Linked DNA regions of Homo sapiens. The protein of the gene in region 5 purifies or fractionates together with the protein of the main gene of each other region. This does not show direct contact. Each region holds a gene or a part of one and is shown on either strand. Other genes may lie near its edges.

The links.
Region 1: the proteins of HABP4 (region 5) and DHX8 purify together in Homo sapiens (affinity purification with mass spectrometry, with the first as the bait; one large-scale study listed by BioGRID). This does not show direct contact.
Region 2: the proteins of HABP4 (region 5) and YTHDC2 purify together in Homo sapiens (affinity purification with mass spectrometry, with the first as the bait; one large-scale study listed by BioGRID). This does not show direct contact.
Region 3: the proteins of HABP4 (region 5) and DDX10 purify together in Homo sapiens (affinity purification with mass spectrometry, with the first as the bait; one large-scale study listed by BioGRID). This does not show direct contact.
Region 4: the proteins of HABP4 (region 5) and KNOP1 purify together in Homo sapiens (affinity purification with mass spectrometry, with the first as the bait; one large-scale study listed by BioGRID). This does not show direct contact.
Region 6: the proteins of HABP4 (region 5) and DNAJC9 purify together in Homo sapiens (affinity purification with mass spectrometry, with the first as the bait; one large-scale study listed by BioGRID). This does not show direct contact.
Region 7: the proteins of HABP4 (region 5) and NUSAP1 purify together in Homo sapiens (affinity purification with mass spectrometry, with the first as the bait; one large-scale study listed by BioGRID). This does not show direct contact.

What each region holds. Positions count from the first base shown.
Region 1 is NC_000017.11:43,514,975-43,518,474, reverse strand, and holds part of DHX8 (ATP-dependent RNA helicase DHX8), read right to left. Parts: intron 1,309-3,500; coding exon 1,153-1,308; intron 644-1,152; exon of another isoform or gene 413-643; intron 1-412.
Region 2 is NC_000005.10:113,512,363-113,516,493, forward strand, and holds the start of YTHDC2 (3'-5' RNA helicase YTHDC2), read left to right. Parts: upstream 1-1,331; 5' UTR 1,332-1,533; coding exon 1,534-1,720; intron 1,721-2,908; exon of another isoform or gene 2,909-2,909; coding exon 2,910-3,000; intron 3,001-4,131. UniProt on the Homo sapiens protein: 3'-5' RNA helicase that plays a key role in the male and female germline by promoting transition from mitotic to meiotic divisions in stem cells.
Region 3 is NC_000011.10:108,675,069-108,678,568, forward strand, and holds part of DDX10 (probable ATP-dependent RNA helicase DDX10), read left to right. Parts: intron 1-527; coding exon 528-658; intron 659-2,016; coding exon 2,017-2,175; intron 2,176-3,246; coding exon 3,247-3,367; intron 3,368-3,500. UniProt on the Homo sapiens protein: Putative ATP-dependent RNA helicase that plays various role in innate immunity or inflammation. Plays a role in the enhancement of AIM2-induced inflammasome activation by interacting with AIM2 and stabilizing its protein level.
Region 4 is NC_000016.10:19,704,833-19,708,227, forward strand, and holds part of KNOP1 (lysine-rich nucleolar protein 1), read right to left. Parts: intron 2,390-3,395; coding exon 2,078-2,389; 3' UTR 1-2,077.
Region 5 is NC_000009.12:96,481,169-96,484,668, forward strand, and holds part of HABP4 (intracellular hyaluronan-binding protein 4), read left to right. Parts: intron 1-3,293; coding exon 3,294-3,465; coding exon of another isoform or gene 3,466-3,489; exon of another isoform or gene 3,490-3,491; intron 3,492-3,500. UniProt on the Homo sapiens protein: Ribosome-binding protein that promotes ribosome hibernation, a process during which ribosomes are stabilized in an inactive state and preserved from proteasomal degradation.
Region 6 is NC_000010.11:73,244,456-73,248,427, forward strand, and holds the start of DNAJC9 (dnaJ homolog subfamily C member 9), read right to left. Parts: upstream 2,801-3,972; 5' UTR 2,735-2,800; coding exon 2,555-2,734; intron 2,374-2,554; coding exon 2,233-2,373; intron 1,722-2,232; coding exon 1,467-1,721; intron 50-1,466; exon of another isoform or gene 1-49.
Region 7 is NC_000015.10:41,349,881-41,353,380, reverse strand, and holds part of NUSAP1 (nucleolar and spindle-associated protein 1), read right to left. Parts: intron 2,394-3,500; coding exon 2,252-2,393; coding exon of another isoform or gene 2,234-2,251; intron 1-2,233. UniProt on the Homo sapiens protein: Microtubule-associated protein with the capacity to bundle and stabilize microtubules. May associate with chromosomes and promote the organization of mitotic spindle microtubules around them.

The DNA.
Region 1 (3,500 bases), on a different chromosome or scaffold from region 5:
AGGATATGGCCCCTGCTTTCAGAGAGTTCACACTGGGTAAAAACTATGTTCACAAAACCACCACAGTGCAATCTACATGCCTGGCATGTAGCATGTGTTCAATACATTAGCTAATTCGATGAATAAAAGAAACGACTGAATGATGCACGATTCAAGTGTATATAAAGTGTGATGTGGTAGGACCTAAGCTTTCTATTTCTTTCTCATAAAGTGATTGTGACCATAAACACAGCAGGTGTTCAATAAATGTTTATTGTGTGAATAATAACTATGATGAATTATGTTAGCAATCATCAAGCACTGTGCCAAGTGCCTTTACCTACATTATCTCACTTATCTTTCCAACAAATACTATTAACAGCCCCTTTTTCAGAGCAGAACACAGAGCAGAGGGCAAAGTAAATAAACTTGCCCAAAGTCGCAGTTTGGAGCTGAAGTCCAAGCCACAGATGCCTCTCTGTTGGCACTTCAGAGACTGGAGTAGGTTTCTTTTTTCTTTCCAAAGCTCTGTTTTAGCCTCTTTGACAGGGAATAAATAATAAATGACAACAGAGCACTCTGCACCAGAAAGTACCAGGGCTCCAGGGTAGCATCAGTGTCGGGGGAAACGCCATCAGCTGGGAAATTACTCATACAGCTCCTCCTGCCAAAAGAGAATGAAGTCCTCACTGGGGACTGAGAGAGGAAGAACAATGATTCAGAATGAAAACCAAGCCCCTGAGAGCCAGTCTGAAATCTGTACTGACAGTTCCCTTGCAAAGTTTTTGAACAGGGGGTTTTCTCTCGTTCTAAAAGAACAGAATTGGATCTGAGCGCTAAAGTGGTTGAGGTTAGGTGTGTGTGTCCACAGTTTGGCATTGATTATATTTTTCTAATTTCCTTTTAGAAAATGCTCCTAACTAGAACCTTTTACAACCTAATATCCTGCTGGTTGTTATGGTAAGAAAAAATGTGTGTTCACAGCAGACATGCCAACTTAGCCCCAGACCTGCCGTGAGAGGCTGTTATCACAGCCATTTGCATTTCACTCAAAGGGACTGCTTTCATGAGGTTACTAAAGTATTTAACAAGGTTCATAAAACTGAAATTCATTTATGAAGGCCAGGATTGGACTGTTCCACCAACCCATTTTAACAAGACAGTGATTTCTACCTTGAGTGACAGCACTGTGCTTGCTAAGTTGGTTCTCTGGATTTCCGGCACGTTGGTGGTCAGCATTTCATCTCGGTAGGCACGTTCTGTGTACAACCTGTAACACTTCCCTGGGCCTGTTCTCCCAGCTCTGCCAGCTCGTTGCTTTGCCTGAGCCTAGAGGGGTGGGCATATAAAAGCAACATATCTGTTAAACACTGCTTAACAGCTTTACCCAGGATATCTGTTAAAAGGGGGACAATTAACAACTGGCAAAATCAGAAATGGGGTTGATTTCACTTCCTTTGGGACCATTTCCAAGACTACCAATGCTCTTATCTTCCCCTCTCCATACTCAGCACTTCGGGGAAGTTTGTTCGAGGGAGGCAATACAAGCAGGGTTAATGGAAGAAATATTATACAGATCTGAGACATATATCTTCAAAATAGTGTGGCGCAATATAAAAGAGAAAGCATAAAACAAGATGACAGAACACCATCCCCACAGTTATGACCAAAAATGTAAGTGAAATAAACATATTACGTCAATCATCCCAATGATGACTCTGCAGTCATTTTAAAAATTATGTTTGCAGGCCAAGCGTCGTGGCTTATGCCTATAATCCCAGCACTTTGGGAGGCCAAGGTGGGCAGATTGCATGAGCCCAGGAGTTCGAGATCAGCCAGGGCAATATGTTGAAACTTCATCTCTACAAAAAATACAAAAATTAGCTTGGTGTGGTGGCTCACGCCTGTAGTCCCAGTATTCAGGAGGCTCAGATGGGACGATCACCTGAGCCTGGGGAGGTCGAGGCTGGCTGCAGTAAGCCGTAATCACACCACTGCACTACAGCCTGGGCAACAACAAAGACTGATCCTGACTCAAAATAAAATAAAAAATAAAAATAAAAATCATGTTTGCAATGTTAAATGACAGAAGAAAATGTTCATTCGCATTAAATGCAAAATGCAAGTTACGAAACAATGTAAAATAATTTTAGTAAAAGTCTTTATATATCAACTACTAGAAGGAAATGACTAGGCGAAAAAAACCCTAAAATGTTAACAGTGGCTAACTCTGATAGTAGGCTTGCAGATGAGGTCTATTTTCTTTAGATTTTACCAAATATTGAACATGTATTATTCTAATAGGAAAATTAAATACTCAAAAAAATATACAAAACTGCATACTTACTTGACTACTAAAATTGCAACCATGAAAGAAATAAACATGAAAAAAGACTGGAATGAAAAACAGCAAAATAATAACAGTGGAGGTAGTAGGATGGTGGGTAAATTTTTTTCTTCTGTTTTTCAAAAATAATAAAACACTACTTCAAAAACACTGATTTTTTTTTAATTAAAAAAAATGTAGTTTAGCCATAGGTTGCTAGGAAACAATGAATAGCAATCTGAAGAGGGCCATTTTCTGACAAAACCATCTGTTGTTACAAACAGTACCAGGATTTACAAATTACTATGCCAGCTCCAAACCAAAGGATAGGTTATGAAAGGACAACTAACCACACAAATCCAGGCAGCAATCACACACAGTGGCTGGACTCTACAGCATTCTACACATGTCTCTCTCCAAATCAGGACAGGCATGTGTAACTAATTTTTTGATCACCGCCACCCTGACAAGTAGTATAGAGCATACAAGCTGGAGCCAGGCTACCCAGGTTCAAATCTTGGCTCCACTAGCTCTGTGATGTTAGGCAAATCACCTAACCCCTCTGTGCCTCAGGTTCCTCATCTGTGAAAATAATATCTACCACATAGGATCAATGCGAGAATGCACCAAGTCAATGCATGTATCTAGGACGTTAAGTACACTGTAAGTGTTAGCTATTATTGGGCCAGGCGCGGTGGCTTATGCCTGTAATCCCAGCACTTTGGAAGGCTGAGGCGGGTGGATCATGTGGTCAGGAGATGGAGACCATCCTGGCTAAGACAGTGAAACCCCATCTCTACCAAAAATACAAAAATTAGGTGGTCATGGCGGCATGCGCCTGTAGTCCCAGCTACTTGGGAGGCTGAGGCAGAGGAATCACTTGAACCCAGGAGGCCGAGGTTGCAGTGAGCTGAGATTGCACCACTGCACTCCAAACTGGGCGACAGAGCAAGGCCCCATCTCAAAAAACAAAACAAAACAAAAAGTGTTAGCTATTATTATTACTTAAGTTTCAAAATAAAAATAGCCTTAAGGCTTTCACAAATTATGAAAGTAATACATACCCACTGTAAAAGATTAAGACAACATATAAAAGTATAAAAGAAAATGCACATCATCTAGTAGCACCACCCATAAATAATCTTGGCTAACATTTAGACTACATGCTTTCAATCTTGGGCACAGCTCACTCACA
Region 2 (4,131 bases), on a different chromosome or scaffold from region 5:
TAGTTGTCAGTGGGCTAGCCTAAGCTTCTTTACTTTGTGGAAGAAGAATTCTCAGCAGCAAAACAGGCTAAGCCTTAATGCACAAACACCTTTCAAGCCCCTGCTTATCTCGTATTTGCTGATGTCCCAATGGCCAAAGCAAGTTACATAGCCAAAGACAGAGTCCATGTGGGAAGGAAGAATACAAGGGTGTGAACAGAGGAATGTGTGATTCATCAAAGGCCATACCTTTGATGAATTCAACAATTTACCATAATGTTACAAAAAAAAATCTTCCCAAATCTCAGCAGTTTACCACAACTAAGAATTATTTCTTACCCATGTCATATTCCAATGTGGGTTGGTGAGGACACTCTATCACACTCGTTCAGGGAATCGGGAACCTGTTATCTATCTAGTGGTTCCACCGTTGTCTAAGAACTTCCAGAAGACCAGGAAAGACAGAGAAGGGAAGATTCAAGGAAGGTGTTATAGACCAATCCTGGAAGTGGTATACATCAGTTCCAGCAACATTCCAATGGCCGGAACTCAGCCATGTGGCCCCCAGCTAACTGCAGGAGAGTTGGGAAATATAATGCCTAGGAAGAAAAGATACTTCTTGTCACCAAATATTCCGCCCCCTTCTTACCACACACAGAATACACATATACCCTCCCCAGACACCTGGAATTCTATCTAGTCACTGCATCCAGGATCTGTTGTTGATACACAGTCCTCTTTATTAGATCCAGATGTATATCCTCATTGCCAGGTAACTCATGAACTATGTAAATATGTACTACATACCTGCCCCCACTCAGCTACCCTGTGTAGCGTGATAGAGCAAGGGTGGCATACTTGCATTAAAATCTCCCATTCAGAAAAGGGAAGAATGCAAGACACACAACAGTGGCTCATTCTTTAGTATATGTATTTTTTATGATATTTTTCCAAATATTGCATGGGAAATATATACACTAAAAATTATTCGTTTATCTGAAATGCAAATTATTAAGCATTCTGTATTTTTATTTGCTAAATCTGGCAACCCTCCTCCCACTAAAATATAAACTCCATGAAGGTAGGAACCTTGGCTCTCTGGTTCTCCAATGTACATCGAAGGCGTGGCATAATGCCAGGTCCACAGTAGAAGCCCATACATGCTTACTGCAGGAATTAATGAAGGACTAAACGAAGTAGCAAGTGAGTGAATAAGAAGATGAGGAGCGACCCTTGGTGGGCGGCGCGGGAAGAGAACCGCACCATAGCTCCGCAGACAGCCTCCTTTAGGCGCGCAGCGGCGGCCGCGCTGAGGTCACGGGCGCCGGCCCTGGTGACGTCATTACGCCCGCGCTCCTCGCCTGGCCGTGATATCAATGGCGCAGGCTTCACTTCTGCTGTGGCGGTGACTGAGGCCTTTCTGGTGACCTCAGCCCAACACAGGCCGTCTCCGGAGCTTCCCGGTAGTGGCCCCGGATTCCCACGGTCTTTGTCATTGGCTGTCAGCTAGCAGGCCTGGCCGCTCCCGTGCGGAGAGACCATCTCTTCAGGGCAATGTCCAGGCCGAGCAGCGTCTCCCCGCGGCAGCCGGCTCCTGGCGGTGGCGGAGGCGGCGGCCCCTCGCCTTGTGGCCCTGGGGGCGGCGGCCGGGCCAAGGGGCTGAAGGACATTCGCATTGATGAGGAGGTGAAGATCGCAGTCAATATCGCGCTGGAGCGCTTCCGATACGGGGACCAGAGAGGTGAGGTTCCGGACAGGGACCATGCTGGCAGTCAGGATACCCCCCTCACCCCAGCGCCCCCCAAACGGCGGCCCACCGAGTGATGGGGGTGCCTCCGAAGAGGGAGGGAAGACCCGGGCCACCGTCCGGGGCGGGCCTCAGCGGCGGCACCCGGGTCTGGAACGCGGCTGTTGGCCCTGCGGTGGAATGCGAGGTGCTCTGCGGATCAATGGGGTTATGGGCACTTTGCTCCCTAGCTGAAAGTGTTTTTCCCCCGCGTCTTTCAGCAGCCTTGGGCGGTTAAGCCACCGTGTTTCAGATATTGGTTAGCCCTAACCCTTTTTAAGGGGGTGTCACCTAATTGTGGCACGTTTAAGCTACAGATGTAGAAGAGCAGAAAGAAATCAAACATATAAATAAATGCACCAGCAATACGTTTGGACCCTGAAGCATCACGCTACCCACTTAAATTAAACTTGTTTGGCACACGAAGCATCTTCCACACCTCTTGAGGTTAGATAGCCACTTGTCTTGGGTCATATAATGCAGAACCAGCAACTGACCTGCGGTGACCTGTGCAGTCTGTTGAGGGCTCATTCGGACCTGCTGGCTTAGTTAGGGGACCTCTTACTCTGGAATCTTATAGTCCAAAACGGGGAATGTTCTAGACAGAGAGATTCTAAATTCACATTAAAAAAAGAGAAAGCCTCAGCAATATATAACAAATCCCTCTGAAATAGTGAAATACGAATTCTGTACAGTTTTGAAAGCAAAGACAATGGAGTTTCATGTTGAGAATTCATAATATTTGAACATATCTCATCATTGAAGAAAATAAACATTTTGTTAACTAAACAAGTAGGGACCAAGTTAAATATGTTCAGTCATTATACCAACTCAAAATTCCAGAACAAGTAAGAGGAGTCGTTTTTGGTGAATATCAGAGGCCTTTATCACATTTAGGTTTAATACATAGCTGTCTTTTTATTAATATCAGAATTCTGATAGACATTCAGTAGTTATTGAATTAATAAAATATCTTAATTTTATTAATTTACATAAATAGAATATGAAATATAAAGTTAACCTCAAATAAAGTATAATAAATTTGATTGTCTATGTATGTTTTTCATATTTTGTATCTGTGTGTTTTACTTGAGAGAAAATTGCCTATCTACAAATTTTACTACTTTGTTTTTTTTCCGTGTAGAAATGGAATTTCCTTCTTCTTTGACCAGTACTGAAAGAGCCTTTATTCATCGACTCAGTCAGTCTCTTGGTTTGGTCTCTAAAAGTAAAGGGTAAGCTGGTAGCTTTTCTTATTTTTTTTAAAAAAGATTATTTGCCCAAAAAAGGGAGAAACGTTTCTGAGTACATTTAAGTACTTATTACTGTTTTAACTTCACATTCTTAATTGTATCATATGTAGATAAAAGATTCAGGTCTGTACCAAATTCAACTCTTTCCTCTTCCCTCTGTCTACCTCTTCCCCCCTTTTTTGTTTTGTTTTGTTTTTCCCTAGGAAAATGCTTTTTCTTCTACCCAGCTTAGGTTCCTTGGCTGGGACCCTGCAAATTAGACTGATAAAAGACATATTAACAAGAGAAAAACATAAGCTTATTAAGACATGCATCATGCATACATAGGGGAGAACTCGATAGTAACTCAAACATGGGGCTTATGTGGCATCTTAATAAAGAACAATGAATTTATTTAAAAAATGACAAGACAAAGGAAAAGGACTTTGAACTTGTAGGTGCAGTAAATTGTGGGAAGGTATATGTGGGGAAACTAATGGAAGATATGTGTTCTTTTAGCAAGGTTGGTTATGTAGGTTCCCCTGGTGCTGTCTCTATTAAGAGTCTAGAGTGGTTTCTCTTGTTAAGAATAGTCCTTCCCTTTCTGGTAAAGCAGGGGAAGGCGGAGTTTTTCTTATGTCTGCTTCTTCTCGATTGCCTTCAGCTCAAAATAATCCTTATGGCAGAGTGACATATTTTTGGGTGGCATACCGTGAACTCTTTCAAAGGTAAATTTTAAGATGTAAGAAAAAAATAGTTTAAAAGTTGAAGTTGATTGCTTGAGAAAAATATTTTTATTTTTTGATAGAAATCTCATTTGAAAAATGGATGTACAAAAGATAGTTGCAATTATTTATGGAACTTACTTCTTTTACTGTTACTGCAATATAATAATAAGCTTTAGAGCATATGTTCATTGTTTTCTTTCCTACCAAGTCAAGGATCTGATGATTAGAAATGATTTTAAAAAGTGGTACAGGAGGAAATTGTTTTGTTTTGTTGGGAGGATCACAGAGTTACATTGAGGGAAAAGTCATTTGAGCCATCCAAATTGAAAAACTCTAAAATTCTGTGGCGCTATTTCATTTTGTTAATAAGGATGGTGGGATCAATGTAAAGGAAGCTTTCTCACTG
Region 3 (3,500 bases), on a different chromosome or scaffold from region 5:
AGGCTGAGTCATATTCCATTTGTGTGTGTGTGTGTGTGTGTGTGTGTGTGTGTGTGTATGTGTATGTATATAACATATATTTTCTTTACTCATTCATGGACACTTAGGTTGATTTCATATCTTGGCTTCTGTGAATAATGCTGCAATGAACATGTGAGCACAAATACTTTTCAAAGTAGTGGTTTTATTAATAAACCCTTTGGATTATACCCAGGAGTGGAGTAGGTGGATCACAGAATAACTTGTCTCTCTTCACATGGTTTTCCCTCTGTGCATGTGGACCCTTGGTGTCTCTTTGTTCAAGTTTCTTCTCATAAAGACACCGTTTGTGTTGGATCAGAGTCCACCCCTATGGGGCTCTAACTTAATCAACCTCTTTAAAGGCCCTGTCTCCAAGTATAGTTATGTTCTGAGGTACGAGGCATTAGGGCTTCAACATAGGAATTTTGGGGGACACAACTCACTTAGCCTATAATACCATCCTACAGGGATCTTCTAAAGTATAATTCTTCCCTCCATGTTGCCAGGTTTGCAAGAAGCTCAGTACCGTTTGGTGACTGAGATACAGAAGCAGACCATTGGATTGGCTTTGCAAGGTAAAGATGTACTTGGAGCGGCCAAAACTGGATCTGGCAAGACTCTGGCTTTTCTTGTTCCAGTAAGTACATTGTCATTGGGTCAGACTGTCTGTTATACAATTTTATAACATTCTGTGCCCAGATGCAGATTATATAAAGAGATGTTTTCATGTTAGATTTCATGATAGATTGGCTAGAATGCGAGCTTCATCAAACAGGAGCCACATGTGTGTCTTGTTCTCACCATTTTCCCCAGGTTCTAGCACAGTGCCTTGCATGTGGCAGGCACTCAATAACTTACTGAATGAATGAACTATTGTGCCTTGACAAGTCATTACATTCTTGATGGAAGTGGAGTGCTCCAGTATGGCAGGTTAAAGTGGTTCTGTGCTGCAGTAGGACTGGTGGGAGACAGTTTCTGCTCTCACCCTTGTGAGCCTGCCAGTGGCATTTATACTTGCCACCTTGTTTAGGATAAAGCTGAAATATGCTCAGTTTAAGGAGCTTTAGGCATTTGTTGAGAATTTTCTGGGACATTGCTATCGGTCTTTTATGGCAGCAAAACAGTAGAGCTTCTTAGGCTTTCACTTCCATCTCTGTTACGTTGGTCTCCTAATTTTTCATTCCTATAAAATGACCCAGAAAAATCTCATTTTAGTTTTTGTTCCAAATATTGCAAAAACCACTTTTCTCTTAAATCCTAGTGTGTTTTTGCCCCCTTAAAAAAAAAGGCTCCCTATAGCTAGATAATTCAGTTACTATATAACTACAGCAGCTACATGGGTGAAAGTTTATTTACTTATTTTTATTTTTTTTTGAGATGAAGTCATGCTGTGTTGCCCAGGCTGGAGTGCAGTGGTGCAATCTTGGCTCACTGCAACCTCTGCCTCCCAGGTTCAAGCGATTCTTTCTGCCTCAGCCTCCCAAGTAGCTGAGATTACAGATGTGGGCTACCACGCCAAGCTGATTTTTGTATTTTTGGTAAATACGGGGTTTCATCATATTGGTCAGGCTGGTCTTGAACTCCTGACCTCAAGTGATGCACCCGCCTCCTCCTCCAAAGTTCTGGGATCAGGCGTGAGCCACTGCGCCCAGCCAAAAGTTTTAGTGTGGTTATTTAGAAAATGATAAATATTATTCTTAAGTGTGTTGTAAAGGTCTTTGGGTTGTACATACCTTTCACTGATAGCCAGTTTCCTGATGGCATGGCTCTGGCAGCAGCTGAACTACCGTGGGGTTTCTTTTCCCTTTCCTCTGAGTTGGGGGTGGATGGTTCTGATGGAAGATAAACAAAATCATTTACTTTGGACTGGATAAAACTTGAGTGGTATGCCTTCTGCTTGGAAGATCCCTTTGATTTGGAGGGGCAAGGTTGAGATGCAGGTCAAAAAGCTGACTTCTGATGACTTACTGAACATGAATTTGCTGTCTTTTTGAGGTGCTGGAAGCCTTATATCGTCTGCAATGGACTTCAACAGATGGGCTGGGGGTTCTCATAATATCACCTACGAGAGAACTGGCCTATCAGACCTTTGAGGTTCTCCGAAAAGTAGGAAAGAATCATGACTTCTCAGCTGGTCTCATCATTGGTGGAAAGGTTTGTCCTTTTGTCTATGTCCTTCCTTTCCTTCTGTAACCTATACTGGAGTACTGTGGCCGATGACAGGGAGGCAGCAGAGACTTCATCTAAACAGACTGACCTAGACCAGGGCCTCATGGGATAGTAGCACTTGGTGTGGTCGCTGCTATCTACGATCTGGTTGCCAATTTTGCAGGCCCAGAAAGTCCATTTTTTTTTGTCGGGGAATCTGAATTGATTAGCCTCTCTAAGACATATTTACTCTAATCCTGTAAAGTTATTTGTTGATATTCATTGGGAAAGATATTTCCATATATGAACTAGTACCTTTTAATAAGGTATCTATCTAAGAGGCTGAATAATTCAGAGGATTGCTACATCAGCAGCGTAAGAAAGGAAGGTAGACTCTTTAGAGGAATGTTTATAGTAGGTCAAGATAAGACCTGCTGCTCACTTTTGTTCTATCTTATAGCACATCTAGAATGCCTCTATCTGCTAGAATCTCCACTAGACTGTGAGGATAAATACTTCAATTTTTATGCAAACATGCACAAAAGAAGAAAGAATAGCATCACAAACCCTTACGTACCTGTTGCCTAACTTTAACAATTAACAACATTCTGTTTTTTCCCACCGCCTCCAGGACTGTGAGAAGTGGTTCTTGTATCAAGGAGAGAACCTCGGCTTTTTTCAGTTCACAAAGTACAGTCCTTGAGCGGTGTCAGAGTCTGTTCAATGTCCCTGGGTCCTGAATTAAAGAATGAGAGTGATTCCAGTTTATGTCAGTTCTGATCCAAATAGGAAATCCTGACTTGGAGTATTCATTTGATTATTTTTTTTTCTTAGCCTCAAAATCCTGGGTATGAATAAGAATTTAGAACTCTGAGCTCCTTATGTCTTCCTGTAAAGACTTTTATTTAGCCCAGAAATGTGGATATGGTTCAGAAATACAAGGGAAAAGTTATGTTTATTTCCAAGAGTATCTAAAATGTTGTGATGAAATGCCCATGCAGATGGCTTTTATAGCTTTGGTACACAGGCTGCTGAGAGTGATGTGTCTGTGTAATCAAAATAAATAACTGTTTTCAGGATCTAAAACACGAAGCTGAGAGGATCAACAACATAAATATACTCGTGTGCACACCAGGTCGGCTTCTTCAACACATGGATGAAACAGTATCTTTTCATGCTACCGACCTCCAAATGTTAGGTGAGTCAAATCAATTTCTAATTTAAAAAAAAAAAAAGCTCAGACTTAGGAGAGAGCCCTTATACATTTTTATGATAGAAATTTTATGTTAGATAAATGTTATGATTCAAAACAAACTTAAAAATTACTGAAA
Region 4 (3,395 bases), on a different chromosome or scaffold from region 5:
GTAGCACATACTTGTCCAACTATTGACCTGGCCAATGCTTGCGGATCAGGGTTCAGAGCCAGGGAAACTGCCTGAAGTGCCTGCCTCACCTCTGCCCAATGGGCAGCTGTGGACACCATGGCCACTTCACCAGCATCCACTCTTCTTGACTGAAGGGAATCACCAGCCTTCCCATGACAGGGGCGGGTGCAGCTATGGGCAGATGACTCATTGCCCAGCAATGGAGGCTTCTGGAAGTTTCCTTGAGACACAAAAAGGCTTTTCTTCCTCTGGAATGTTCTAGGGTCTTGATATGCTGCCTGGAACTGTTACTGCCATCTTTGTACTAGCCTTGATGAAGCCAACACTGGAGATGATGGAGAGAATGCTTCCTTGGCGAGCTGTTGAACCAGGCCCTAATCAGGCCTTCCTGCCACGTGAGACTGAACTTTCTGGCCATCGAGGCCTGCCTGGGCTGGGATGTCTGTAGGAGGCATGTTCAGGCCAAACGATCGTGAAAATGTCCCAGTCAGAACCTGTATTTTGGGATGCAAAAAGCTAGGTGAGTGGAAAGAAGGTGGTCACAGATGGTCACATGCGACTTGGGCCACTGGACCTGGAGCTCTTTGAGGCTTGCTGTAGAGTCCAGGCTTGGAAACGCTGTCCCCACAGCCGATGAGGCAACTTCCCGTGTCATCTCCACACGTTCATCTCCTCCTGGCATTCAATATCCACCTACAGAAGTCACCTGGGATTCTCTTCCTTGTGATAAAAAAGAATCTCATCAGACACATCCCTGGGGCTGGGCACAGTGGCTCACACCTGTGATCCCAGCTCTTGGGGGCTGAGGCAGGAGCATGAGTTGAGTCCAGGAGTTTGGGACTAGCCTGGACAATATAGTGAGACCCCATCTCTACAAAAAATTTTAAACACTAGCTGGTTGTTGTGGTGCACACCCACAGTCCCAGCTACTTGGGAGGCTGAGGTGGGAGGATCACTTAAGCTGGATAGGTAGTGGTTGCAACAAGCCGTGATATGCCACTACACTCCAGCCTGGGTGACAGAGTGAGAGCCTATCTCAAAACACACACACACGTCCCTGGGATCTGCCATTGATTCATTTGCGGGACTAACCACTCTTCCTAAAATGCCTTGTTCAGAATCCAGTCAAAGCACAAAAATCCTACCTCAGCACTTAGGGCCGAAGGGACACCAGTGGAAAAGGCAGGACTGGTTTAGAGGCACATTTCCCAGCAGCAGCAGCTCAGTCACATGTGTTTGGTAACAACTCAGACACCTCTCTGCCTACAGCTGCTCTATGACAGGGGAAAGGAAAAGGAAGGAAAAGGAGTTTGCGATTCTCCGTTCCTCATTCACTCCACTTTTTATCAGAGATGCAGACTTGTCATAAAACTTTTTCCTCCATCTAAAGACATTTCAATCCCCAACGAGGATTCTGGTGGAAATTCCCTAAAGGGGACATTCAGAGTGGCGAATAGTGAACTTAGGGCTTCGGGTACAAAAGTACAACACCCTGCACTTAGTGGCTGGGTGACCCCAGGCAATTTTATTACTTTATCCCTGAACCTCAGTTGCCTCATCTATAAGATGGGGCTAATAATAGCACCCATTTCATAATTATGAAGATTAAATACATTAAGGAAAACACTAGTATGTCCCTAGTACCTGCTAAACACTCAACAAAAGTTAACTGTACATACTGATGTCTCAAACAGGGACGGAATGTTTAACACAGAAAACAGGAGGTTTTAGCACTCACTCGTTCTCCTGGCTCCCGAAATATGAGCTGCCCTGCCCCAGTTCATCCAAGCCCATCAATATAGTTGTCCTCGTCCTTAATCTCCACAGGTGTTCAATGTGAGCCAACTGTCAGATGGCTTTCATTTGCACAACTGAATAAACCATTTATGCCTAGTGTTCCATTACTGGAACGCTAAGCTTATGGGAGTTATTTATATCTTACTGCTCGAGGTCCTCACCAAGATCTGATTTTTTCACAAAAAAAATTTGTAATCTCCAGCATAAATGGAATAATCAAAGCAATTGTGGCAGTTTTGGGGGGACAAAACTCTAGAGTTTAATCTTCCAGCTTGACTGACTTGGAAGCGTTCCTGTCAATGTAAAAGATCTTGTTGGGGGCGGTGGAGAAGCCGAGGCCGGCTCCCCGGCTGTACTTCCAGCTCATGGCCCGGTCGTAGTCCCGCTGCAGATTCTGCTGCAGGCTGTCAGCCGCCTTCTTGCCGAGGGCCATGTTGGGCCTTGCAATCGTGCTGGCGGGGCGGCTGAACGAAGGGGACAGGTTTTTGAAGCCACCCATAAGTCTGAGAAATTTCAGTTTTTGGTCCTCGTTCTCAAAACCAGCAGTATCCCACTGGCCAAACTGGGTTCCCTGTGAGGAGAGGAAAAAGGTGGCTATTTTCCTTGAGTTCAAAGCCCTTTCCTTCCCTTGACCCCCACCCTCATCAGGGAGGGCCCAGCAGATTAGATGGCTGCTGTGTACCAGGCACAGTGCTAATAAGCTCAACAACGGATTATTCCGTTAATCCTAAAGACAGCCCTATGAGAAACACTGTTGTTATTCCCATTGCACAGAGGAGAAAATAGAGGTCTGCAGCTTAGCTGGAGACAGAAACCTAACTAGTGACCCCCAGAATTCCAGCCCAGGTCCAGCCAACACCACTGCCCACCTCTGCACAGAGCTGCCTTTCTGCCTTCCTCCTCCTTTCCTAACTCATGGCACACGGCACAGTGTGCCTCACTTCACAACAGCGCACTCCCCCCACCACCCTACACTAAGCATTTCCCCCCACCTCCCTACACAGTGCACCTCCCCTCCCCCACCTCCCTACACAGCACACTCCCCCACCACTCTACAGAGCACACTCCCCCCACGACCCTACACAGAGCACTCCCCCCACCTCCCTACACGGCGCACATGGCGCACCTCCTCCCACCACGCTACACAGCACACTCTCCCCCTACCATCCTACAAAGCGCACCTCCCCTAACCACGCTACACAGTGCACTCCCCCCACCACCCTACACATCGCACTCCCCCCACCTCCCTACACAGCACACTCCCCCACCTCCCTACATAGCACTTCCCCCACTCCCTATACAGCGCACCTCCCCCCACCTCCCTACACAGCGCACCTCACCCCACCATGCATCTCACAAGACAGCACACCTCCCCCACCTCCCCACAGGGCGCACCTCCCCTGCAACACAGGGCACCCCACAGCCCAGCAGCCGGGCGCACTCACCCAGCAGCCTAACGTTTGGGTGAATTGGAGGGTGGGAGAGGGCGAGTGGGAATCTGAAGTGTGCTTCTCAGAAGCACTGTTTTATGGCGGGAACGGGTGCGGGCCCACAGGGGTAAAAGGTCACACAGCCAA
Region 5 (3,500 bases):
CCGCCTCCCGGGTTCAAGCAATTCTCCTGCTTCAGCCTCCCGAGTAGCTGGGATTACAGGGATTACAGGCGTGTGCCACCACACCCAGCTAATTTTTGTATTTTTAGTAGAGACGGGGTTTCACCATGTTGGTCAGGCTGGTCTTGAACACCTGACCTCATGATCCACCTGCCTCGGCCTCCCAAAGTGCTGGGATTATAGGTGTGAGCCACCGCGCCCGGCCTGTTTTTTCCCCTTAAACACTTTTGAGATATAATTCTCGTACTATAGCACTCAAATCTCTAAGTATATAGGCCAGGTGTGGTGGTTCAGATCTGTAATCCCAACACTTTGGGAGGCAGAGGCAGGAGGATAGCTTGAGGCCAGGAGTTCAAGACCAGCATGGGCTACATGGAGAGACCCCGTCTCTACAAAATGGTTGTAAAAATTAGCTGGGCCTGATGGCTCGTACCTGTAGTCCCAGCTACTCTCAGGAAGCTGAGGTGGGAGGATCCTTGGGCTCAGGAGGTTGAAGGTATGGTGAGCCATCATCATGCCACTGTACTCCAGCCTGGCCAACAGAGTGAAACCCAGCCTGTATCAAACAAATAAATGAGTAAACGACTGAATGCATGGATGGATGGTTTGGGGTATGTTACATTATTAATTTTTTAAAATTGCAGTAAAAATAACATAAAAATTGCCATTTTTACCATTTTAATATATATAATTTAATGGCATCAGTAACATTCATATTGTGTGTAACCATCACCACCATCCATCTCTAGAACTTTTTTTTTTTTTTTGAGATGGAATCTCACTCTGTTGTCCAGGCTGGAGTGCAGTGGTGCGATCTCGGCTCACTGCAACCTCCACCTCCCGGGTTCAAGCGATTCTCCTGCCTCAGCCTCCTGAGTAGCTGGGACTACAGGCACATTCCACTACACCCGGCTAATTTTTCTGGTATTTTTTAGTAGAGACGGGGTTTCACCGTATTGGCCAGGCTGGTCTCGAACTCCTGACCTCATGATCCGCCTGCCTCAGCCTCCCAAAGTGCTAGGATTACAGGCTTGAGCCACTGTGCCTGGCCTTGTAGAACTTTTTCATCACAAACAGAAACTCTATATCCATTTAACACTAACTCCCCATTTCTCCTCAGCATGTAGTAATCTCTATTTTACTCGTGTTTATGAATTTGCCTATTCTAGGTGCCTCATCTAAGTGGAATCGTTCAATGTTCCTTTTGCACCTGGCTTATTTTAACTATTAGCATCAAGTTTTCAGCTTCATTCATGTTGTAGCATGTGCCAGTCTTCATTTCTGTTTTTCTTTTTTTGTGTGTATTTTTGTGATGATTTTCAAATCTACGATTTTAATCCTTTTAAAGTGTACAATTCAGTGGCATTTAGTACATTCAGAGTGTTATGCAACCATCACCATGATCTGGCTCCAGAAGGTTGTTATCATCCCAAAAGGAAACCCCATGCCCATTCAGCAGTCACTCCCTATCCTCCCTCCCTGCAGCCCTGGCCACCACTGACCTGCCTCCTGTCTGTGTGAATCTGGCTCCTCTGAATATTTCATGTAAATGGAATCATACACAGAAGTCTTTTCTGCCTGGTTTATTTCACTTGCATCATTTTTTCAAGGTTTGTTCATGTCGTAATGTGTATTAATACTTTGTTTCTTTTTATTGCCAGATAATATTCCAAAAAATGTGCCATATTTGGTTTATCCACTCATTAGTTAATAGACATTTAGGTTGTGTCCACTTTTTGGCTATTATGAATAGCACTGCAGTGAACACTTGGGTTTAAGTTTTCATGTGGATGTGTGTTTTCATTTCTCTTGGGTATAAACCCAGGAGTGAAATTTCCGGGTCAGAGGCTAACTCAGCTTAGATTTTTGAGGAACCGCCAGACTGCTTTCCAAAGAGGCTACACCATTTCACATTCCCACTGGCAGTGTATGTGGGTTCCAGTTTCTCCACATCCTCCCCAACGCTTGTCAAATGTCGTTTTGGTTCTAACCATCCCACTGGGTGTGGACTGGTGCAGCTCTGTGGTTTTGACTTGTCTTTCTCTAATAGCTAATGATGTGCAACATCTTACTGCCTATTTGTATATCTTCTCTGGAAAAATGTTCACTCAGATCCTTGCCTTTTTTGGGGGGAGGGTGGTCATTTGTCTCAACTAAAGAGGACTTGTATCTAGAATTCATAAAGCATTCTTTTTTTTTTTTTTAAAGAGACAGTGTCTCATTCTGTTGCCCAAGGTGGAACACAGTGGCCATTCACACGTGTGATCATAGCTCACTGCAGCCTCAGATGCCTGGCCTCAAGCGATCCTCCCACCTCAGCCCCCTGAGTAGCTAGGACTATCGGCATGAGCCACCACGCTTGGCTGTTCATAAAGAATTCTTTATGTATTCTAGATACAAGTCCCTTGTGAGATATATTATTTGTAAATATTTTATCCCATTTTGTGGACTGTCTTTTTACTTTCTTGATGGTGTCCTTTGTAGTATAAAAGTATCTGATGATGTTCAATGTATGTACTTTTGTTGCTTGTTTTTTTGGTGTCATGTGGAAGAAACCATTGCCCAGTCCAGGGTTAAGAAAGTTTCTGCCTAGGTTTTCTGCTAAGAGTTTTATATTTTAGCTCTTGTATTTATGGTGTGAGGTAGGTCTAACTTCATTCTTTCTTTTGGTGTGTGTGGATATCCAGTTGCCCAAGCACCGTTTGTTGAAAATACTTTTCATTCTCCATTGAATTGTCTTTGGCACCACGGTTGGAAAAAAAAAATCAGTTGACCGTAAATGTGAGGGTTTATTTCTGGACTCTGAATTCTTTGCTCTCAATCTATATTTCTGTCTTTTGTTTTCTTTTTAAAACTCATTAAAGAGGATATTTGCAAAAGTATGCATTCATGAGCCACTGCTTTAAAACTTGTTTATGGTTTCCTGTATTTTATTTCAACCCATTGTCCATAATTACCTCATTTTGTCTGTCATGCTGTCTGGAAGGGAGTGCCAGTGGTGAAGTGTGATGTTAATGTCATCAGGATGGTGATGTTCCCATTTTTCAAAGATTGATTTGAACACAGATAGGAAGTATCTTCTGTTGGCAGTGATGACATAAAATGTTGAAAATGAAATATGGAAGCTTGTGAGTCAAAGATTTCCTTACCTTATTTGCATTTGAAATGCAGTACCACAAAAATATGTTGAATTAATGGTTATAACTTTTTCTTTATAAAGTAGACATTTTAGTACCATCAAAAAGTATTCTTTATGATTATATATCTCTTTATAGAGTTCCTGAGTTGGAGGTAGAAGAAGAAACCCAAGTTCAAGAGATGACTTTAGATGAGTGGAAAAATCTTCAAGAACAGACCAGACCAAAGCCTGAGTTTAACATCCGGAAACCAGAATCCACTGTTCCTTCCAAAGCCGTGGTGATTCACAAGTCAAAATACAGAGATGATGTAAGCATTGCATTTCGTATGTAGAGGTAATCTTT
Region 6 (3,972 bases), on a different chromosome or scaffold from region 5:
TCTGCACTCCAGCCTGGGTGATGGAGATGCCATCTCTTAGAAAAAAGAGAAAAAAAAAAAAAAAAGGCAAATGATGCAATTGCCAGGATACAGGTATTTCCAATTTCTCTCCTGGAAACCCAATTTACTCCATGGGACTGGTGGTGCCTTGTGAACAACCCCAGTTTAAAATGACTTCTCCCCAGTAGTCAGAAGAACCAACATCAATAAACTCAGTTTTAACATCTATTTACCTAATTTCAAAGCAGCCTTCCTTTGCCAAGTGTTCCTAGAGCATTGTTTACAAAATATCACAAGAACACCTTAGGGCAACAACTATAAGAGGCCCCAACACCCCTTGTGAATTTTCTAAGTAGCAATTAATGCTATTAATACTGAGGATGATGATACATTAGGACCCCCTATCCCAATAAGACACCGTTTCCTTGTATTCAAATTCTCTCTTTAAATTCAGCATCCCCCTAAGGTTTGTTGAACAGTCTATCAAAACTATGCCATTTTCTCCTCAAATTCTAGGGAAGTTTCTCAAGCTAACAGTCTACTGTGAATGCAGCTGTGCTCAGTTTCATCTCAGGAAATGATGAACGACTTAAGATAATTGTCAGCTTGAGTCTTAGCAGATGTAGCCTATGAACCAAAATGGTCTTGATATACACTCCACCGTTCCCCTCAAGCTCACCAGAAAGGGTGCAGCCTCTTATCTAGGCAAAACAGGCCCTTCAAATTTTCACCGGAAACAAAAAGGTCAGCTTTCTCTCTGCCAGCGTCTCTTATGTAAAAGCTGCAGAAAAGTTCCTGAGGGCACTCAGGAAGGCAGCAGTGGTCCTAAAAGTTGTGTGCTCCTTAAGAGAATCTAACGCCCGATGATCTAAGGTTTCATCCTGAACCACCCCCCCAACTCTCCTCACCCCCACTGTCACTGGAAAAACTGTCTTCCACAAAACAGGTACCTGGTATCAAAAAGGCTGGGGACCGCTAAGCTAAAGTTTTTCTTTAAAAAAAAAAAAAAGAAAAGAAAAATTCTGTATCCAACTCAAGAATCAAATTCGGGGCAAAGGCCCAAACATCTGCACTTTTAACAAGACGGTGTCTGCCATTCTCTTCTTACCCCCTCAACCGAGTAAGGATCACTGCCCATCCTGTGTACCCGGGTTCCACTAACTTTATCTCCTGAGGAATGCCTCAGGAATGCTACAAGAATTGGCCTACATGAAAAAATATTTCAGTGCTACTTTACTATGGTAATATTTAAACAATCTATGCAATAAAAATCATCTTGAGCACAACATGCTAGAAAAAGTTTCTCTTGATGAACTGGTATGCCCATTTTATTAGATCGAAACTATAGACCAAGTTAACCCTAGTCCTTATTTCTGGAGTTTTATGTTTACTTCTACTGCTGTAAATACTCTCAAATCCTTTTTGGAAGCAGTCAAAATATAAATCCACAGTATTCAAAATCTTACCCTCCTTTTCCTTGCATTCATCTTTTGTTTCGATTCTTTGACAAAGGCATTATAGGATGGGACCTCTCCGGCGTCAATAGCTTGCTGAATGATATTCCTTATCCTGGGTTCCTCTGTGTACTGCACGCAAAGCACAGACTCCATGATCTGATCCATGTCACCCTTGAAGTCCAGATAGGCCTGCTTAATATCAGCCAGCTCTTCTTCCGAACCTTTGTATGTCTTTTCAAAAGCTTGAATGTCCTCTAAAGATATCTGATGATAAAGGAGATTTGCTTTAACTTTGGGAATTTTACTTTAAATAAAACGTACGTTAGTAAAACTAGAGTTGGGTGTTGAATTGCTGCAATACAACAGTTGCTTGAGTTGAAATTATTGAACCAGATTTTCTATGCCTAAGCTTCTCCGGAGTCCTCCTTTTTAAATCCAATCTTCATTAACTGCTAACTAGGGACCAGGGAAGGGAAATTTAAGTGAAATTTCCAAGAGTGAGAGGTGATCCGGAATCAGGACTTACATTTGGATATGTAAAATAAAGCGCATCCGGCAAAAAAAATAAATCGGCCCTTTTCAGTGCAACAATCACATTAACAGGAAATTTAAAGCCCGTTTCAGTAAGCGTGCGTGTATCTGTATTTCAAGGCCAAACTCAAAATTCCTAATTCCTACAAAATTAACACAAAATACAAGATCTTAGAGGCAGTCAATAAAGGTTTGTTGATTGAATGATGGTAACAGTCACAAAGAAACCTCCAGAGTCCTTTACCTTTTTAAAGAGTAGCCGCCAATACGCCTCCCAGTCTCGGTCTTGGGTGAGCACAGGAGAGTCCTCGTCCACTGTTCCCTGCTCATCGTACACTGCTCTCTGTTCTCTGTCACTGAGAACGGAATAGACTTTTCCCAGGATCTGAGGGCAAAGAGTATCCGTAAATCACCCCTGCTCCTCCCACCGAAACGGCGGCGCGAGAAATAAAGATCAGAAGGCGCCAAGCGGAGCTCAGCGCGCTCCCCCGGGGCGGGGCCCGGTAGCCAAAAGGCTAGGGGGAGGCCCGCGCAGCCGGTCGGCTTCGGGGCGGGACCCTGCATACCTGGAAGCGGCGGGTGGCGTCCTCCTTGTCGCCCTCACCCACCCGGTCCGGGTGTACCTGCAGGGACACCTTGTGGTAGCCTCGTCGGACCTCGCCGTCGGAGGCCTCGCGTCGCACGCCCAGCACCCGGTAAAGGTCGGCGGTGCCGAACACTTCCTCGCAAAGGTCCAGCAGCCCCATGCCGGGCGGAGATACGACCCCGGAGGAAGCAGCCGCTCCCAGCTGCGCCGGGTACAACCCAGGACTGCTTCTTTTTCGCGCCCAAAAAGCCCAGGGCGCCTGCGTCACAAGCACTGAAGGGGCGTGGCCACGCCGCGCATCCGCGCTTTACGGCGGCCGCAAAATGAGGTGTGGCGAGTCAGGCGCGGGCCCGGGTAAGTAACGCCGGCATGTGGAGTCACAGTCCCCGGCCGCGCGCAGGAGCTAGGTCTTCAGGGAAGTGATGTTGCTCGGGTCTCTCCTCCCCTTGCTCTGGAAATCTGGCGTCCGTCTTACCTTTTAGTGTCCAAGAACAACTTTTTCAAAAAGTTCATATATTAGCTTGAATTTACAAACTGCTGGCCTATTTTTTTAAGTAGAAAACGGCCAAACATCAGCATTCAGCAGTTACACATGGTTCAACTTAACAGATGTGTTTTTTCAAAAATGTTCTTGAAAGGAATAGGTAAAGCTGTAGACCCAAATAATTTTGCACCCCACTGGTTGGAAATGCTGGGGTACTTTCCCTCTAGCCCTGTAGGAAAAAACCCTATACTGAAACCCAAAAAGCACAAAACACGGGTCTTCCAAAAACTCTTACCTAATAGGACTTTCACCTTACACATTGGTGGAGAGAGATAACATGACCCAAGCCTCCGTCTTAATAACATAAACTGCTGAAGCAAAGGCTCTTTCTTTTAATACTCTGTGAAGTTCACAGCTGGGTTTGAACATGTTGGATCCCAGGTGGCAGCAGAGTGGGCTGGAGCAATCATCCAAGAGATGGTGAGAAACTTGGGCCTGGAGACCCAAAGCAAGGTTGAGGCTGGGGATAAAACTTTGTTAGTAGGGTAAACTCACAGAGGAAGTATGTGTATACATATCTTAAAGGATAAACAATGCTAAGTGAATACCCGAGTTGGCAGAAAATACCTTATCAAATATCCCCTCACTGATGTAGCATTTTTCAGAATCATTCTGCTCTGCCAATAAGTTTCTGCAAAGCCTCAAACTCTCCAGGATACATTAATATCTTTTAAACTTCCCAGAGTTGCCGTGATTTTCAAAGCATTTCTCTTTCCCAGATCCAAGATCAAACTCAGCTGAAGTCAGTTCCTCTCAACCTGCCCTGGCATCAAAGTCTCAAAGCAAGTGGGGGCCAACCAGCAACAACCCCAGGGGAGCTTTGACAACCACAGAATTTGAGATGGCTGGTAATC
Region 7 (3,500 bases), on a different chromosome or scaffold from region 5:
CACCTGAGATTAGGAGTTCGAGACCAGTCTGGCCAACATGGTGAAACCCTGTCTCTACTGAAAAAACAAAAACATGGTGGTGCACACATGTAATCCCAGCTACTTGGGAGGTTGAGGCAGTGGAATTGCTTGAGACTGGGAGGCAAAGGTTGCAATGAGCCGAGATCCTGTCACTGTACTCCCGCCTGGGCAACAGAGAGAGACTCTGTCTCAAAACAAAACAAAACAAAGAAAGGATATTTATGTAGAGTAACTCTCCACAGGATACTTACTAATTCCAAGTGGTAAAAGAGTAACTTCACAAAGAAACAACCTAGCAGACACCACCATAACTAACTGATGGAAGTTAACGTGACTAGCCATAGGAAAAACCAGCACTTGTGCCTCCTAGGGTGCTTACTGAGGAAGCAACAGCATTGCTCTTTGGGATTCCTGCCAACAGCCCATAGTCTGATTCTAAGCATGAGGACATATTAGACAAACCAACTCAGAGGACAAAAAACTGGCCTGTATTAAAAAATGCTGGCTGGGCATGGTGACTCACACCTGTAATCCCAGCACTTTAGGAGGCTGAAGTGGGCAGATTACTTGAGCTCAGCAGTTTGAGACCAGCCTGGGCAACATGGTGAAACCCTGTCTCTACTAAAAATACAAAAATTAGCCGGGCGTGGTGGTGCATGCCTATAGTCCCAGGTACTCAGGAGGCTGAGGCTGCAGTGAGCTGAGATCGTGCCACTGTGCTCTAGCCTGGGCAACAGAGCAAGACCCTGTCTCAAAAATAAATAAATAAATAAATAAATAAAAATTAAAAATTACCTGGGAGACTTGTTAAAAACTGAAGATTCCCAAGCCCATCTCAGACCCAAGGAATCCTGTAATTTTCTAGATTCAGTATGACACTCAAAGTTTTAGGGAAAATGAGAAGGCTCAGGATTAGAAATTCCAGATTTAACTGCTTGGTGGATACTGGAATGAATTATCCTCTCTCAGTCTCTCTAACTCCTCCTCTGGCAAGGCTCAGGGCCCTAGCAGATTTGCCCAGGTGAAACTAATACTGAGATATTTTATTTTCATTTATTTATTATTATTTTTTATTTTTTAAGAGCAGAGGTTTAGTAGGCAAAAGAAAGCGAAAGGAAGGCCGGGTGCGGTGGCTCACGCCTGTAATCTCAGCACTTTGGGAGGCTGAGGTGGGTGGATCACGAGGTCAGGAGTTCGAGACAAGCCTGGCCAACATGGTGAAACCCCGTCTCTATTAAAAATACAAAAATTAGCTGGGCCTGGTGGCACGAGCCTGTAATCCCAGCTACTTGGGAGGCTGAGGCTGGAGAATCGCTTGAACCCAGGAGGTGGAGGTTGTAGTGAGCCAAGATCGTACCATTGCAACTCCAGCCTGGGCAACACAGCAAGACTCTGTCTAAAAAAAAAAAAAAGAAATTCTATAACATGGTGCTATGGGTTGAATTGTGGCCCCCTAAAAGATATGTTGAAGTCCTAACCACTGGTACCTGTCATATGACCTTATTTAGATATGGGAATTTTTTTTCAGATGTATTAAGGTTAAAATGACATCATTTGGATGTTCTTTTAATTTTTTGAGATAGGGTCTCACTCTGTCCATGCTGGGGTGAAGTGGTATGAAGATGGCCCACTGCAGCCTTAACCTCCTGGGTTCAAGCAACCCTTTCACCTCAGCCTCCTGAGTAGCTGGGACCACAGGTGTGCACCATCATGGCTGGCTGATTCTTTTGACTTTTTGTAGAGACAGGGTCTCACCATGTTGCCCAGGCTGGTCCTGAACTCCTAGGCTCAAGCAATCCTCCTGACTTGGCTTCCCAAAGTAATGGGATTATAGGCACCAGCCACTATGCTTGGCCTATTTGGGTGGATCCTAATCCAATATGACTGCTGTCCTATTAAGAAGACATAGAGAGAGAATGTCATGCGCTGTCAGAGCCAGAGACTGGTAATGATGCAGCTGCAAGCCAAGGAACACCAAGCGTCGACAGCCATCGCAAAGTAGTCAGAGGCAAGGAAGGAGTCCACCCAGAGTCTCAGAGAAGCATGGTCCTGCTGACACATTGATTTTGGACTTCCAGCCTCTAGAACTATGAAAGAGTAAATTTCTGTTGTTCTAAGCTGCCCAGTTGTGGTGCTTTGTCACAACAGTCCTAGGAAATTAATGTACCTGGCTACTTCTAGCAATTTTGGTTTTTAAAGTTACTTGACATACCATTTATTCCACGTTTACCTGAGGAAACAGCATTCTCAGCTTCTTGGTGCTCGTCTGGTGGAGAAGGAACTTTTGCAGTAGCTCTGAGATCCTGGCTTTCCTGCTTTTCATGATTCTGGAATTCAGTGGGATTACTTATTTTTATCTCTGAATGATTCTGCTACAAATTTAAAAAGGAAATAAAAGATTTCGATGATAAATAAGAATTGCTGCCTTCCAAAGATAAGTACCAAAGTGAGGGGGAAAAGGGGTTAAAGGAAGAAAAGTAGGAGAATGAGATTTTTGGTGGCAGATTTGGTTCTCTGCCTTATCAACTGTCACGAGAATGTAAATTTGAGAACAGGAGATACTAGGGCACATTAAGAGGAAAATAGAAATGGCAAGATTAGCTCTGTTAGCAAGGACAAATGAAGAAACCTAGACAGTCTACTGAGCAAGTGACTACATTGAGGCAGAAATTTAAATAATAATAAGTACTGCATTTATTCACTCCAAGAAAAGTAAAAACTAAGGCCCAGAATGTGGCAAGGCAAGAGTTAAAAAGAAAAGAACAAGTTTTCCTCTGCCTAGTAGCTCACTTTGAAGACAGTTAGAAGATAACGCTGTCCAAATAGCCAAGGCCAAAGGAATAAGCTCCAGACACCACCCTCCCCCCGACCCCTGGTTCCAGAGCAAGGTTGAAAGAAAAAAAAAAGAGAAATACAAGTTCTTTTAATGTTACTCTTTTCCCGGGCTTCTTAAGCATGATTAGCATGATTATGTTTTACAAATGTCTGTATTTAGCCAGTTCTTGTTTTTCTTTTAATGCAGCTACAAGGCCACTGGCTAAGTCACAAGTTATGTTACGCTATAGATTATGTAACCTGTTACTGTATGATTAATTGCTTTTATTTTGCTTCTGTAAAGCCACTTATAAAAACCCGCTCAGTCTTTGTTCAAGGCTCAGCTTTTAGATGTGAATCCTCCGAGCCGGTGCGTGCCTAAAATAAACAAATCCTCCTGTACTCCGTATTAGTCTCTCCGTTCCTCAGTTTACTGCAACAATATGAACATAGAAAAGAAAATTAAGACTGTGTTTCAGGGCTGGGCATGGTGGCTCACACCTGTAATCCTAGCACTTTGGGAGGCCGAGGTGGGTAGAGCACCAGAGGTCAGGAGTTCAAGATTAGCCCAGCCAACATGGTGAAATCTCGTCTCTACTAAAAATACAAAAATTAGTTGGGCGTGGTGGTGGCCACCTGTAATCTCAGCTACTCAGGAGGCAGAG